Homo sapiens: one gene and its partner. The protein of the gene in region 1 interacts with the protein of each later gene in a pairwise test. Each region holds a gene or a part of one and is shown in the gene's direction. Other genes may lie near its edges.

Region 1 (7,027 bases):
CATGAGACTATGAAAAAGAGCAGCACTTTTGTTGTAGTTGTTGTTGTTAATAAAAAGGATAATAACATACAGAGGATTATAAGAAAAATAAGACATACCTGAGGTTTTGTGATGAGCTATAGAGAATCAAGGGCAGTTCCAGTGGAGCTGAGGCTGACAAAGTACTGCCCAGCTGCCAGCCAAATCCACCCTTAAGTTGCTTTTGTATGGCCTGGGAGCTCAGAAGGAATTTTTTAAATTTTTTTTACAGCTTTAAAGTATTAAACAGAAACCAACAAAGAAGAATATGAGACAGGGACGTACGTGGTCCGTAAAGTTTAACTTTCTGATCCTTAATAGGAGGATAAGCGCCGTGATAGAGAAATCCAAAGGTCATTTGTATTACGATGGCTAGATAATGTAATGAATTCCAATGTCTGTGCATCAGCGAATACGTCATCAAAATTGCTACAAAACAATAATAATAGGTTGTTCACAGCTTAAAATGTTTAGGTAGTGAAGAGGAAAGAATATAACCTACATTATTTATTGACTACTTATATTTCCCTCATTTTACGGAAGAGATCTATCAATTTACGTACTCAATAATAGAACTACAACATGGTTGCACTCCTTAATCTCAGGATAGAGATAACAATTTTTATAAATCTATTACATTATGAGAACATTGTTAGTACTATAAAAATCAGGATCAGTTAAATGTTCTCTTAAAATAATTTTCAATATTAAATTTTTAAGTAACTCAGTGGATGCATATTTTCCTTATTTTTGGAAATTTGACTTATAAAGTTTAAGCCATGACTAGAATATTTACATCATTAAAATAAAATTTCCAAGTAAAAATTTTCATCTTAAAGTAATACGGAAATGATTTTGCTACATTATTCTAGGATTTTACAAAGTAATTCACCTTTAGAAAAAAAGTGGTTTTTTTTTTAGCTCTAAATAATTAAAGGTTGCCTAAACTAATGTGTATAAGTAGATTTACCTGTAAATATGTAAGGGAAGTCCCAATTATTGTACACTTTCATAATTCAATGTGAATTTCATACAAAGCAAAGTTTCACCATTAAGAAAATAAACATTTTGTTCCTATCACTGAGTGAATATTTGTAATTTCTATTTAAGCCATTTCTAGATTTTTTTTTTTTTTTGGTCTTTTGTGAGCTTCTGAGATTGGTGCCATTTTATCACAGTATTTCTCGTCTTGACTTCTTTGCATGACCCCAGGTTTCCAGTAAGTAAGGTATCCTTAGAAAAAAAAGTATTTTAAGGGAAATGGATGCATACTTCAGGCCCATTTTATATGTAACTCAATATTGTCTTTTTAAAAGGCCACACTACCATGGAATAAATTAAAATAAAAAATCAGATTTCTTGTACGCATAACCCCTGCCCAGTTTTAAAAATGTGATCCCTTATTTCTAGAAACCTAAAATAGATATCCCTGAATAACAATTCATTTTTAATTATCAGTAGATATATATACTGACACAGAGTATAAACAACTTCTGTCACTATTTATTTAAAATGTTAAATTGTACATTTTTCATAATTTCTTTAAGAGAATCTTCTTTGGTGAGTTTAAAGTGAGAGTAGACAAATAACTTAGTGGCTAAATGATTTAATGTCAGATGACTTAATGACCAGTTTTTGCCCTTGATCCAGCCCCACTCTGATATTCTACCTCCTGTGTGCTTGTCTTCATTGTCCCCATATTAAAATGGTGACTGATACGGAATTCTGGAAAAATCTGATCGATTAATTAATGTGAATATGCATGTTTTCCTTAGATTCTAATATGGTCTTTCTTGTGTAAGAATGTGGATTTCTAATAGCCATATAACTCAATGTTTCTCAGTTTGAGCCCTATTGGCATTTGGGGCTGGATAATTCCTTGTTTGGGGGCTGTCCTGTACACTGCGGGATGCTCAGCAGCATCCCTGGCCTCTACCCACCAAATGTCTGCAGCATACCTTCCTACCCGACCCAGTGTGACAATCAAAATTGTCTGTAGATGTTGCCAAATGACTTTTGGGTGGAAAAATTGCTCTCGTTAGGAACCACTTATGTTAATTATGGAAGAATCTTTTTTTTCTAATGTTATTTGCATCTAAATTTGCATAACTCATTTCTAATAGGTACTCGGATTTCATTCGTAATTCAGAAATAGAAAAACATACAATGGTCTTTTTAACCTGTCCTAGTGGTGAATATACATGGTTTCCTTCGCATTTATCTGTTCTAATGGCCCAGAAAAAATAAGAATCCAGACCTCTCTCATGTAATTGTTAAGGATATTCTGAGCCAAGCCAGATTTCACATGCATTTCCATTCCATCCATCCCAGCATTCACAGTTTCCACAGCTACATATTCCATTCCCTGCAATAAAATACATATAGGTATCATGATTATGATCAAAATGTGCCAAATTTAAACATGCTATTATAAATCACAAGTGTCCACAATGAAATCATTTCATTCATCCTTGGTAGATTTTCTTATTGTGCAATGATGTTATTATTACATCTTATTAAGCAGCTGCGAGACATCTAATCTTTCAAACAATTAGTGGCATTTATTTGGTGCCACCCTTTACCGATCAGATAGTCACCATCCTGTATCACTCCAGCTAGGCTTTTAGGTGACAATTTTGTTTTCCCTTAAAGAGCAAGTTATATCTGACTTATGAATAAATACAGAAAAACATAAGGCTCTTTGACATAACATGAGGCAGGCCAAGTAATCCGTGAAGAGAGTCTTACGTAGTAAGGATGGGCAGAAAGCAAAGGTCTAACTTAATGACACACAAAGAGTCATCTTTTACCTTCAGCTAGAGCTGAGGAGAAGTATACATGTCTCTGTTTCCTCGTAACTTGGCTAAACAAATGAATTTATAACCAATTATGAGGACTCAATAAATTAGGATAGCAGTGGCTATGACACGGCTGAGCCCTCTTTATACCTCTCCCCCATACACACATCCAGTTCCCTAAAAGCAACCAACACATCAACTAGTGGTACCCAGATTCTGTTTAAAAGAATATTTCATTCCCTATACCATGTTCAAAGTAAAATGGTTGCCAACAAAATTCTTTTCTGTGTTCAATATACAACTGCATACATGTGAGTTTGAGGGTGGGGAGGTTACTTTGTGGAAGGATCCCAAATAATCACAAAATTTAGCTTCATTCTCTTGTATTCTTCTATGCCTAGGAATAATGTGAGGCTTTTGTGAGGGCTTTTTCCCAAATGCCCACTTCGCCTTTGGTAGATATTTCATATTCACGGTTGGCCCTGTTGGTCCAGCCACCTAAAGCATTGCATGACGAGTGTCTCTTGGCTCTATAACAAACTGTGGCATAGAGCAATTAGAAAAGGTTAATACTGCACCTGTACAAATGAGACCATCATGTTTGTCGCAGTCTCTGTCATCACAGTCACAGAACTCCCCAGAAATATACCACTCTTCAGCAGAACAAATGCACTTCCCACAATGACAAGAACCTGAAATTACAAAGGCTATTACTCACCATCACCTTATAACTAAAGGTTTCCATCTCGAATAGAATATCGTTGACACACTGACAACAGGCTTCTAATAACCCATCATCCAAAGGTAAAAGTGTATTGAATGGCTGGTTTCTCAGAGGGGAGCTTTACTTACTGTAATTCATAAAGGTCACCCAGGAAAGCCTTCATTATGGATCTAGACAGTTGCAATTAGCCTTGAACAAATGTCCCATGGCCCAGTCTGGTTGAAATGTCAATGAGAGCAGGATGGGGTTGATTCTTATAGATGGTCTTCCAAAAAAGTATTCAAAAATAGATTTTTTCCTCCTAAATTGAATCATGTTTTTAAAGTGCCTGCTCTTTAAAGGAAATGAATAGGGAATTGTATTAAATTAGGTTGCATTTCTAATTAAAACAACTACTAAATTATTGTGCTTATAATTTTGGATTTTCGTTTACATGATTTTCTTGGAGTAGGAGCACACCTGCATATTGGGTGGCTAATTAAAGTGCTAAAAATGCATACAGTCACTCAGTATATTTGCCTTGTGAGACTCATCCTCAGGACCCTCTGTCATAAACTGGGATAGCTCAAATTACTCCCAAAGTTCATATTTTATGAGGCTCTGGATTCAACTCTTTTTCCCTCCACTTCACCCATTTCTCCTACCTAACTAAAAAACTTCCTCTTTGGTTATTTAAAATATCTTTACTTACTGAGTAAAAATTTTATTAATGATATATTTAAAATAAAAGAAAATAAATGAGATGATGAATGGTATCCAAGACAGAAGTTCTCTCAGTCTAAACAGCTTTCCATGACAGACTAAAAACCCTTACATGGAAAAACTGCCTCAACGACAGCAGGAAAGACTTTACAATGAAAAAGAAACAAATAAAAAGGACTTTCTTTTCCTTCTGTTTCCTTGGGTTGGTTGTTCTTTCCAAACATGACTTCCATTTACTAAAAGATGGCTGTATTCTTTTTGAGTCAAAATCACGTTGAAAAAATGTGCAGTTGAAAAGAGTATTTTGACATATTTAACAAAACTGCAGAATTGGTAAGTTCAAAATATATTGAAAAGGGGCAAGAATCAATCATTAGTGCTTCTTTTAAAACACAGTGATTAAAAATGAGTTAACAGCCTGGGTGATTAAAGTGATCAGGAAAAAGGAGTTGTGGTCATCACAGATATCATGAAAGGATTCAGGTTCATGTGTCTCAACTATGTGATATTTCATATCAGGGAAACTGGTATATGCATTTCAGCTGCAAAAATCCCCAAAGTCCAAATTAAATGTTTGCCATTTCTTGACACACTTCTCAAAGTAAGAGTGCAGTCAGAATTATTTAGATTGTGACAATTGTGTTTTTTAACTTCTTGCGTAGCTATGGCATAATTGTATTTAGTCTTGACTTGTTTTCCTGAGGGTCCAGGTTGATTTGCATGCTCTTGAGGAAATATACACGTCTTCTCAGTTTTAATAATTGACTGACAGCCCTGTGGTTTCTCAGGACCCAGTGAGCTGCTGCTCCCAGGTCAGTCTGCAAAGGATGCTGGTTCCCTTGTGGTCTCATCAAGGTGAGGAATTTCCTGATTTTAGAGATTTCTTTATCCTAATTTTGAAGACTTTCTTTCACATTTCTAGGCATAAAAAAATGTACAGCACTCTACTGCTTGTTTAACAAATGGATAGTGATATATCTGCCAACAAAGACCACATGGAGTATTTCATTGACTATCAGAGAAGTTTCCTCGAAAGGCACCATACTTAGTGTTTTATTTCCATGAGTGAAGGAAAATTAGTTATTTGAAGTATTTGGCTGTCTTTAGTTGTTTCTAAAGTAGTGCTGATTTTATATGCCCATAATATTCATATATACACCCAGGATATCATTTTATATATGTCACAATTCATGAAATATCTTATATTTCATCTTCAAACTTATCCTCTGGCCCTGGAACTATTCTAATCACTGCTCTTGCTTCTGGAATGCTTAGCTTCATGCCATAGTAGAGCATTTTCAGAAAACTGGTAAGCTCAGCTAAAGCTAATATGGCATATATGGATAGAACATTTGATGAGTAAATTCCAGTTCTGAAAGTCTACTAGTCGCTGAAATACTTAGAATAAAAAATGAGGATTGATTTTGTATGTGTCATGAAACAGTAGCATTTCTAGGTCAGCATTTTCCCAGCTGTGTTATTCTTTCCTGTTTGTCAATGCTCAGTGCATCTTAGAGGTAGGAAATTATTCTACTGCTTGTGAAACTAGAACTAGATAGCACATAGTAATAACACAGTGTGAATAGTTATTAGGACCTATTATAGCACTTTTCCTGTAGAACGCTCTAGCTGTTTTCTTCCATAACATGGGTCAAATTGTGCCTCTCTTAAATGGGAAGCACACAGGGAGAGGGTTCCATCAGACAGATGTAGGCTGCATGACTATCAAGAGGTGAGAAATGGTTCAACTCAGCTGGCCAAGACCCACTCACACCCCTGAGACCCAGCCTAGCCAGAGAACAGCTGGCTGATCTTGGCAGGAGTTTTAGGGCAGATAGTTCATCACCACAGCACCACTAATCCATTCATTTTCTTTCTCAATATAAGGACCCTTGAGAATGTTCCCATCTCCCTTCTGTGCATTTTTGCTGGCTTCCATCCCTGGGGAATCAGCCACATTTTCTCATGTGTCTTCAGGGCATCTTAGGACATAGGAAGGGGAAAGAAATGAAATTTTACCTTCAAAGATGAGAATGGAAGAGAGAATAAAGGAAACTGTCCTGGACCTCACAGGCAATAAACAAACAGTTAACTGAAGACTTCACTCTGATTCAATCCACTCTTCTTTTTAGTGATCTGCCTATCTGTGATGTATCTCCAGGCAAAAACTTTCATATACAGTAGTTTAAAAATGAGCTGTTTCTTCCTGCAGGTCTGACTGCACAGGCATATTGAGCGAGGCAACTTGAACACCAGGCTGAGGCCGATTTTGTGAAGCATCTTTCACTCTTTCTCTTTTCTGGGGATGTGGGACAGGTTGTGGGTGGGTGAGTGTGTGTGTATGCTGGACTTCTTTGGAAGATGTGGGACCCAAGAAGTATCACTGTGAGAGTTTAAGGAGACAGTTAATGACATGTGTTTACAGCCATTGTCACACAACAGCATCTGTAAGAAGATTGGACGTGATTATCTGGATCTAGCTTGAAGTAGTCAAGGCAAAGATATAATTGTGTAGTCTTGAAGCCAAATAAATCCCCAAATGAACAAAACAACCCACAATGAATTATATCATGTACTTTGCAAAGGTAGCTAAGCTTAGGGAAGACCCGGCACTGCACTAACCTCATCTCTCTTGGTTATTCACAAAAACAATTTGAGTCTAAGGGCAAGGCACCTTTGTCAGTTGCCCATTCCATTACTAATGTTGGACTTTCTTTTTCATTCAAGCCTGACAAAATGCTGCAACCTGACATCCCAGCAGGCAGTTTTCACTATTGTACTAACT
Region 2 (7,027 bases), on another chromosome or scaffold:
AGAACTTTTTACTTGGTAGGATCACCAAAGCTTTTTGAGCAGAGGGTAATGTGGTAAACACTGAAGAGGAAAGGAAGCATGGTAGAGTCGGGAGACCATACGATCTCCATATTAGATGACTCTTTTTGCTTTTAGATCCATTGCAGAAGTCTTGTGGTCATTAGCTCCAGCAAAATGCTGTGTCGATTTTATCCTTTTGACATAAATATATATTCTCTACACTCATATTTAAAAAGTATTAAGCCTTCTGATACGCCACATAATGAGATAATGTTCTTTTTCATTTTATGGATCAAGTTTCTTCACTGTATGGATAGAATTATGTTTCTGCAGGTATTATTGGTATGGGTTCTGTTTCTGCAATCTTGATTGTTGTGACTGCAATTACTCAATTTCTCTAGGTAAAAAGGTGTTAAAAATAATGCATTTGAAATGGTTTTCTTATTGCAAATTTAGATTTGGATGGAGCCAGCCAACGGCGTTATTCTGAGAATCTCTCCTACGGTGAAGATGACCACATCCCTGCTCACTCACAGTCCCCATGTGAAAGAGGGGATGCCAAACACCACGGCACATCTCACCAAGAGTCCAGTGTGGTCCAAAGCCTCAGGCGCCAATCCACAGAGGGCAGCTTGGAGATGGAGACAGCTTTTAATAGCCGGGGATTTGAAGATTCCTATGCCACTGACAGCTCCTCCATGTGGAGTCCAGAGGCAAGTTATTTGTTTTTCATTCTTTCATTGGTTCCCTTTCCCCTTCCCCTCTTTCCACTCTCCTTTCTCATCTCTCTAAAAAAAAAAAAAAATTCCAGAAAGGAAGCATTACTTTTATCTGCAATAAATTTTTGTCCAGATGACCAAAATCCCATGCATGTCAATAAAAGAGTCATAAATTTCTCTCAAAATGGAAAAAAAAGGATGAACGGTAAAAAAAAAAAAAAAGAAAAAAAGAAAAAAAAATAAGAATGGTGGCAGAATGGATCCAGGAACAGCCAGGCTTTTCTTTTATATAAAGGCTTTTTATAGACTTAATTTTAAATAATGGAATTTTCAGTTCTTTAGAGGGACTGGTTTATTTACTTCATGGTTTCAATTAAGTGGAGTCTATTTTTATTTAGCCCAAATCTCAAGTTACGATTATTTGATATGAAAATTATTTGAAAATTGAACTAAAATGAAATGGCCTTCCAAGTGAAATTATACAAGGTGTAATGATGCAGATCTTGCACTGTGAATATATACAAAATATATTTTGTGCCTAGGAGACAGCATTAATCAGTAATGCCCCTCTGGCCATTGACATTGGTTTTGTAGTAAATCTCTGATAAAAGATACTTCTTCCAAAGTTCTTTTTCAAGTAAAGCTTAGTCCAGAATAAATGTAACAATCAATCCAGAGATATGGCTGGAGGTGATGATGGTAGTAGCTACCATTTATTGAGCAGTTAATATATGCCAGGCACTGTGATAAGGATTTTACCAAATTGTTTCCTTTTACTGGCCCTTACGGTTATTTTTCCATTAGATAGATCCCTCCTATCATGATTCTGTGACATTGGAAGGCATTAAGGAATGGTGTTTAATACCTAATTTGAAATTAATTTTGATGAAATAAGTCATATACATATATAAACCTTTAATATAATTTGCAGGGATGGGGGAAGAAGGAGAGAGGTGAATGGATTTTATTAGCATCCATTTGAGAAAATAAACAGGATGCATCTCTTATTAGGACTTGGAGTGTCACACACGCTAAATGCTCAAGGTAAAAAAAAAAAAAGGAATCACAGAAAACCCTGTTTCCAAGCCTTAACTGCTAACATGTTGGCGTGTGTAGGTAGTATCTAAGGAGGGGTATGCATACACATCTGTGCCCCTGTGTAGATGTCTCTGCTGAGGACCAGAAATGGTAGCTCACATATGTGGTTTGTGGCTTGTTAAAAAGCAGCCCTTCATATGGAGGCACCCAAAGCCATTAACTTTATACATTTTGTTTAAAAAAAGAAAAAACTCTGCTTACCCGTTAGTTTACTACCAAGCCGTATCAAATCCCACACACTAACTCTTAAAAAATATTTTGAATCTCTCTCCCAAAAACAAAACAGACCAAATGATTTGCCTGCCTATTGATACTCTGTCTCCTTGGTGATTGTGCCATGAGGCTTGGAAGTGACTTCTCCAGGTCACCTCCCATTTACCTGCCTGCTGGAGCTTTAATAGAAGACTCGGTATTGAGGGTACTAAATGTTCTCAGACTCCAAAAATACCCAGACATCTCTGTGTGCTCCATTCAACCTCCTATCTATTTTGAGAAAAAACTGTAATTTGGTGCTCCTACAGTAGAACCTCAAATCCAACTCGGAGGCAGTTCCCGTAACTGCCTGCTTTGCAGGCTTAGCTTGCCTTTTAAGAAATGATTTATTTGCCTCTTAGCTGTATTGAGAACTCTGTCTTCCCCTGTGTATCTGGCATCAGGAACATATTGTAGGCCTGTTTACTTTAGGCCACACAGATGACATCAACACTATCTTACTAAAACAGAAAGGCTTTCAATTTGACAGAAAATCTTTAAACCTACCTGGGTTTTGACAATTTGACACAAGTATTCTCATCTTAAGGAAAAGCCCAGGATATTGGAGCTCAAGGAATCATTTATTTTGTCTCAGCAGGAAACTGGTCGTGCAGTGTGACTACCTGTTAGGCTGATGGATTTTCGAGCTCTGCTCTTCTCTGCTGGCGAAGGCCTTTGGCTTTTTCCTGCAGACCCAGGGCTTGGCAGGAAAGACAATGGGAGTGTGGCTGGTGATTTTGAGCACACAGGGAGACAGGTGTCCCACTTTTCATCTCTGCTTTCCACTGATTAATTGGTTGGCCTTGAGAAGTTAATTAAAATCTGCCAAATGGGGATAAGAATGAAGAGATTTTTACCTTGCAGGAAGGTCAGATGGATTAGTGGTATTAACAGTACCCAAGTGAGGAGCTCCTTCAGTTGCCTGGTGAGAGGTAAAGTGTGTTGAAATAATTAATTGCTATGAAAATACCAGCATTCACAAATCTTTTTCTCAAATCAACCCAGGGAGGGGCTACAAAGCCCAGTTTTCATGGGCCACAGCTTGAATTGGCCTATCCAAAGCCCAGCCATTGGCAGGATCTGTTTATTCAGAGGAGTTCTTAGGACAGTCAGGAGCTCTACCCAGGACTCTCTTAGAAACCTGCAGGTGGAGTGAGCATTTATCCGAAGAGACAGCCTGATACATAAGTGGAGAGAGCTCCTCATTCACTAAAATATTTTTACCTTGGCATTGAAGTTGACAAAACTAAGAGCTATTAACTAACATTAAGAGCAGGGGCCTCAAAGGATGTGAAAACCACAGAGAGTGTGATTCCAACCCCCACCTTCCGTCTTCTCCCCCTTCATCTTGTGCGCTTGCTCTCTCTCTCTCTCTCTCTAGTGCTCTCTCGCTCTCTCTCTCTCTCTCTATATATATATATATAAACACACACACACACACACACACACATATGTCTATATGTAGAAATAGTTATGCCTAAAGGTTTGGGGAAGAAGAAAGGAGACTGTATGTTTCAAAATAAGGTTTGAAATTTTGAGTATTGGATACGAGTTAAGGCAGGCCTGGGACTCAAACTGCCAGGGCATGAGTCCTGGATAATCTTGTCTGGGAATTTGATCTGGGCTTGGGGGGAGAGAGCGTGTTAGTTATTTAGTCTTTCTAAGCTTGAGTTTCGTCCTCCATAAAATGAAGATATTAAAATACCTACCTCATTGCATTGATGTAAATATTCAAAAAGATAATGTTTCTTAGTTGGGTTCCTCAAAAAAGCAGAGCCTACGTAAAGGCTTTGTTCCCTGCTTTGGGAGTGCAACCCCAGGGAACAAAAGTGCGAGACAAGGGAAGTAAGGCAGGGAAGAAGGGAGGTCAAGTGTGAGAATACACAGTTGAATTGGCCACCACTCAGTATGGCTAATTGCCTGATCTTGTGTGATCACACTCCAAGAAGCTGTATGAACTGATAGGACAACTGACTACGGGGCAAAAAGTAGACTTCACATATATTGGTGTCAAGCAGGGTTCTGCAGCTGTCTAAGCCTTGGCGGTCGACAGAGAGACCAATGATAAGAAATGAGAATTATATTGTGTGGGTAGAAGGTAAGACTTTATTGAGTAGTTCCAGGCTGAAACTACTTAGAGCCCATATAGGCTGTGCCTTAGGGGAAGATGGAACATGAGTTAAGGCCAAGAAGATCTGAAGTGTTTAAGAGCCAATTTTTATAGTCTGTAAAGGATTTGATATGGTATTTGGCATAAGAAATAGTTTAGTAGATGTTAGCTATTATTACTTATGGTCAGAAATGCAATACAGAGATGATCAAGAGTAGGCTAAAATAGATGGGAGTTTTAGGAAGAGACAAGGGAGTTTGAGAGAAGATTCTGACTTGATTTTTGAGTTGGCCTAAATCCTTGGAGACTTGCTTCTAATATATATACACTAGTCAGTTGTATTCAAAAGTCTCTATAGCAACCACTTTTATCACTTGAAACTAAGTACCTCTGAATAGAAACACTCACGCATGATTGCATGCTCACAGGAAAGGATATAAGAAGCTTCACTTATTTTACAAGAAATCTAAATTTTCTTGCAGGCTAATTTGAATCTTAAAAGAAAAGGATATTTATTAGATGTCTACTGTCTGTCAAGTCCTCTACTTTTTACAACATCCCTACACAGAAGGTACCATCTCCATTTTACAGTTGAGGAAAATAGAACATGGAAAGGATTAAATGACTTGCCCAGTGTCATAGAGCTAGTAAGTGGTAGGCCTGGGCTTCCTAAGGAAATACGAACCCAGAGAACCATGAACTTTCACCCAGACTATGTGGGAAAGTTTCATTGATGGATGCACATTTTGAGGCATTGTATTATAATTTGAAACGAGATCTCTAAATTAGCAAGTTCTGGTGTTCAATTGCATAAATAAGAACTGGTTTGCAATAAGAATCAGATCAAAGTTTAGTTACAGGTAAGGATCATGCCTTCAGAGGAAAATAGAATTATTATTGACATTATTTATAATTTGTTAGTGGGGTGGTTCATTATAATAAATGCAGCCTAGCTCAGTTTTCCCAGTAAGGTCATCAGATCTGAGTGGCTGCATGTAAATTGCTACCCAAGGGTGACATTCCATAAAGAGGGATGTGTGTTTGAGAATAGGTAGCACCAGTCCAGTGGTGGGAATAGATATTTATGCAGTCTGGTCTAAGCCAGGTATTTTCATATCAATGAAAACCTCACAACAACACACCAGCAAGTAGGCACATTAATGTGCATTTTTAAGCTAGACTACCGAGAGGCTGGTCTATTTGGCCAGGGTAAAAAAGCTAGTCAGTGGTAGAGTTATGATTTCAATTTAGGTGTTCTGGCTCCAGGCTCAGTGTTGCTGTTTACTAAAGGGCTGTGGAGGTGTCCTCCTAAATCCTTGCTGCTCAAAGTGTGAGCCGAGGCTAGCAGCGTCAACATCCCTTGTGCCTGTCCCAGAAATGGCAGGATCTCAAGCTCCACTCCAGACCTACTGAATCAGAATCCTCAGATGATTTAGGTCTACATTAAAGTTTGAGAAGCTCAGCCCTAAACCTTTTCTCCCACTTAGATTGAAAATATACTGAAGCATCACCTTCCTGGGACTCCCATCAAAATTCTTGTCTGTAGAAAGCTCTTGCCTGTGGAGAACAGGCTCAGGCTCAACCATCTGTATTTAGGGACACAAGGAAAAGTTGCCTATGGACAATTGCCTGTTGACTTAATTTTAGATTTAGCATCTCAGTTGGTTTCAATGATCCTGGGCAATTGTGCTTTTTGAGAGGCAGTATATATGAAAACACTTTGCAAAAATATAAAAGCTTTAGTTATCCATTCCAAAAACATTCACGAAGGCGCACCATATGCTAGGCACTTTGCCGTCAAAGAATTCACAGTTTAATGCAGCGATAGACCAGTAAACAGACCTATCTGATATAGAGGGAATACACTGGCAGTTAGAAAGCAGGGATTCTGAAGGAGCACAAAGGGGCACCAACTGGCCAAAATGTAATTGGGTATCATCATTTCCATTTCTAATTGTTTCCTCTGCCTGCAACAGGAACAGGACAGGACCAATTTGCAGGTGCCATCCGGGGTCTCAGAGCCCATCTCAAAGTGTGGTGACCTAGATGTCATCTTTGAATATAGAGCCGCCAGCCAGAAGCTCACAGTGACCATTGTGAGGGCACAGGGCCTCCCAGATAAGGACCGAAGTGGTGTCAACTCCTGGCAAGTTCATGTAGTGCTGCTGCCTGGTAAGAAACACAGGGGCAGGACGAACATACAGAGAGGGCCCAACCCCGTCTTCAGGGAGAAGGTCACCTTTGCCAAGCTGGAGCCCAGAGATGTGGCTGCCTGTGCTGTCCGCTTCCGCCTGTACGCTGCCCGGAAGATGACCCGAGAGAGAATGATGGGAGAGAAACTATTCTATCTCAGCCACCTGCACCCAGAAGGGGAAATGAAAGTGACTCTGGTTCTGGAGCCAAGAAGTAATATAAGCGTGAGTATGTTAAATGGTGCTGCTAATGATGTGGTGTGTTCGAAGACCTGGGATTGTCAGCCCTTGATTTAGTACGTTCAGTCTGTGAATTCAGAGACTTTAATTTAATTTTCCATTTGGCTCTCCTCACCCTTGTAAGCCATGATTTGCACTTCATGGTACAATGGGTCTTTCATGCCTGTCTTCCTGATAACCTGATGGATAAATGCCCTGTCCATTTTAGGACAAAATAGCAGCAGTGTGGTAGAGGGCATGGAGAAAAACAGGGAAGGTGGCTTGGCCCTCTGGATTGTGGATAACTGATCCTACTCCTCCTGCCCCCAATCTGCATCATGATGAATCTCAGAGATGGGACTTTCTGGGCAAGGTTCTTAACGGGTATGCTGGGGCAGACTGAGAGAGCAGCCCAGAACTTCAGCTGCTTCTGAAAC

What was found.
Region 2: the proteins of FGF14 (region 1) and SYT16 interact in binary tests that used the Homo sapiens proteins (3 or more experiments, as listed by UniProt).

The regions. Positions count from the first base shown.
Region 1 is NC_000013.11:101,710,919-101,717,945, reverse strand, and holds part of FGF14 (fibroblast growth factor 14), read left to right. Parts: 3' UTR 1-2,291; coding exon of another isoform or gene 2,292-2,383; 3' UTR 2,384-3,394; coding exon of another isoform or gene 3,395-3,508; 3' UTR 3,509-7,027. Other genes in the region: ITGBL1 (integrin beta-like protein 1 isoform 1 precursor), read right to left, coding at 2,292-2,383, 3,395-3,508. UniProt on the Homo sapiens protein: Probably involved in nervous system development and function.
Region 2 is NC_000014.9:62,074,679-62,081,705, forward strand, and holds part of SYT16 (synaptotagmin-16), read left to right. Parts: coding exon of another isoform or gene 1-15; intron 16-456; coding exon 457-713; intron 714-6,155; coding exon 6,156-6,596; intron 6,597-7,027. UniProt on the Homo sapiens protein: May be involved in the trafficking and exocytosis of secretory vesicles in non-neuronal tissues. Is Ca(2+)-independent.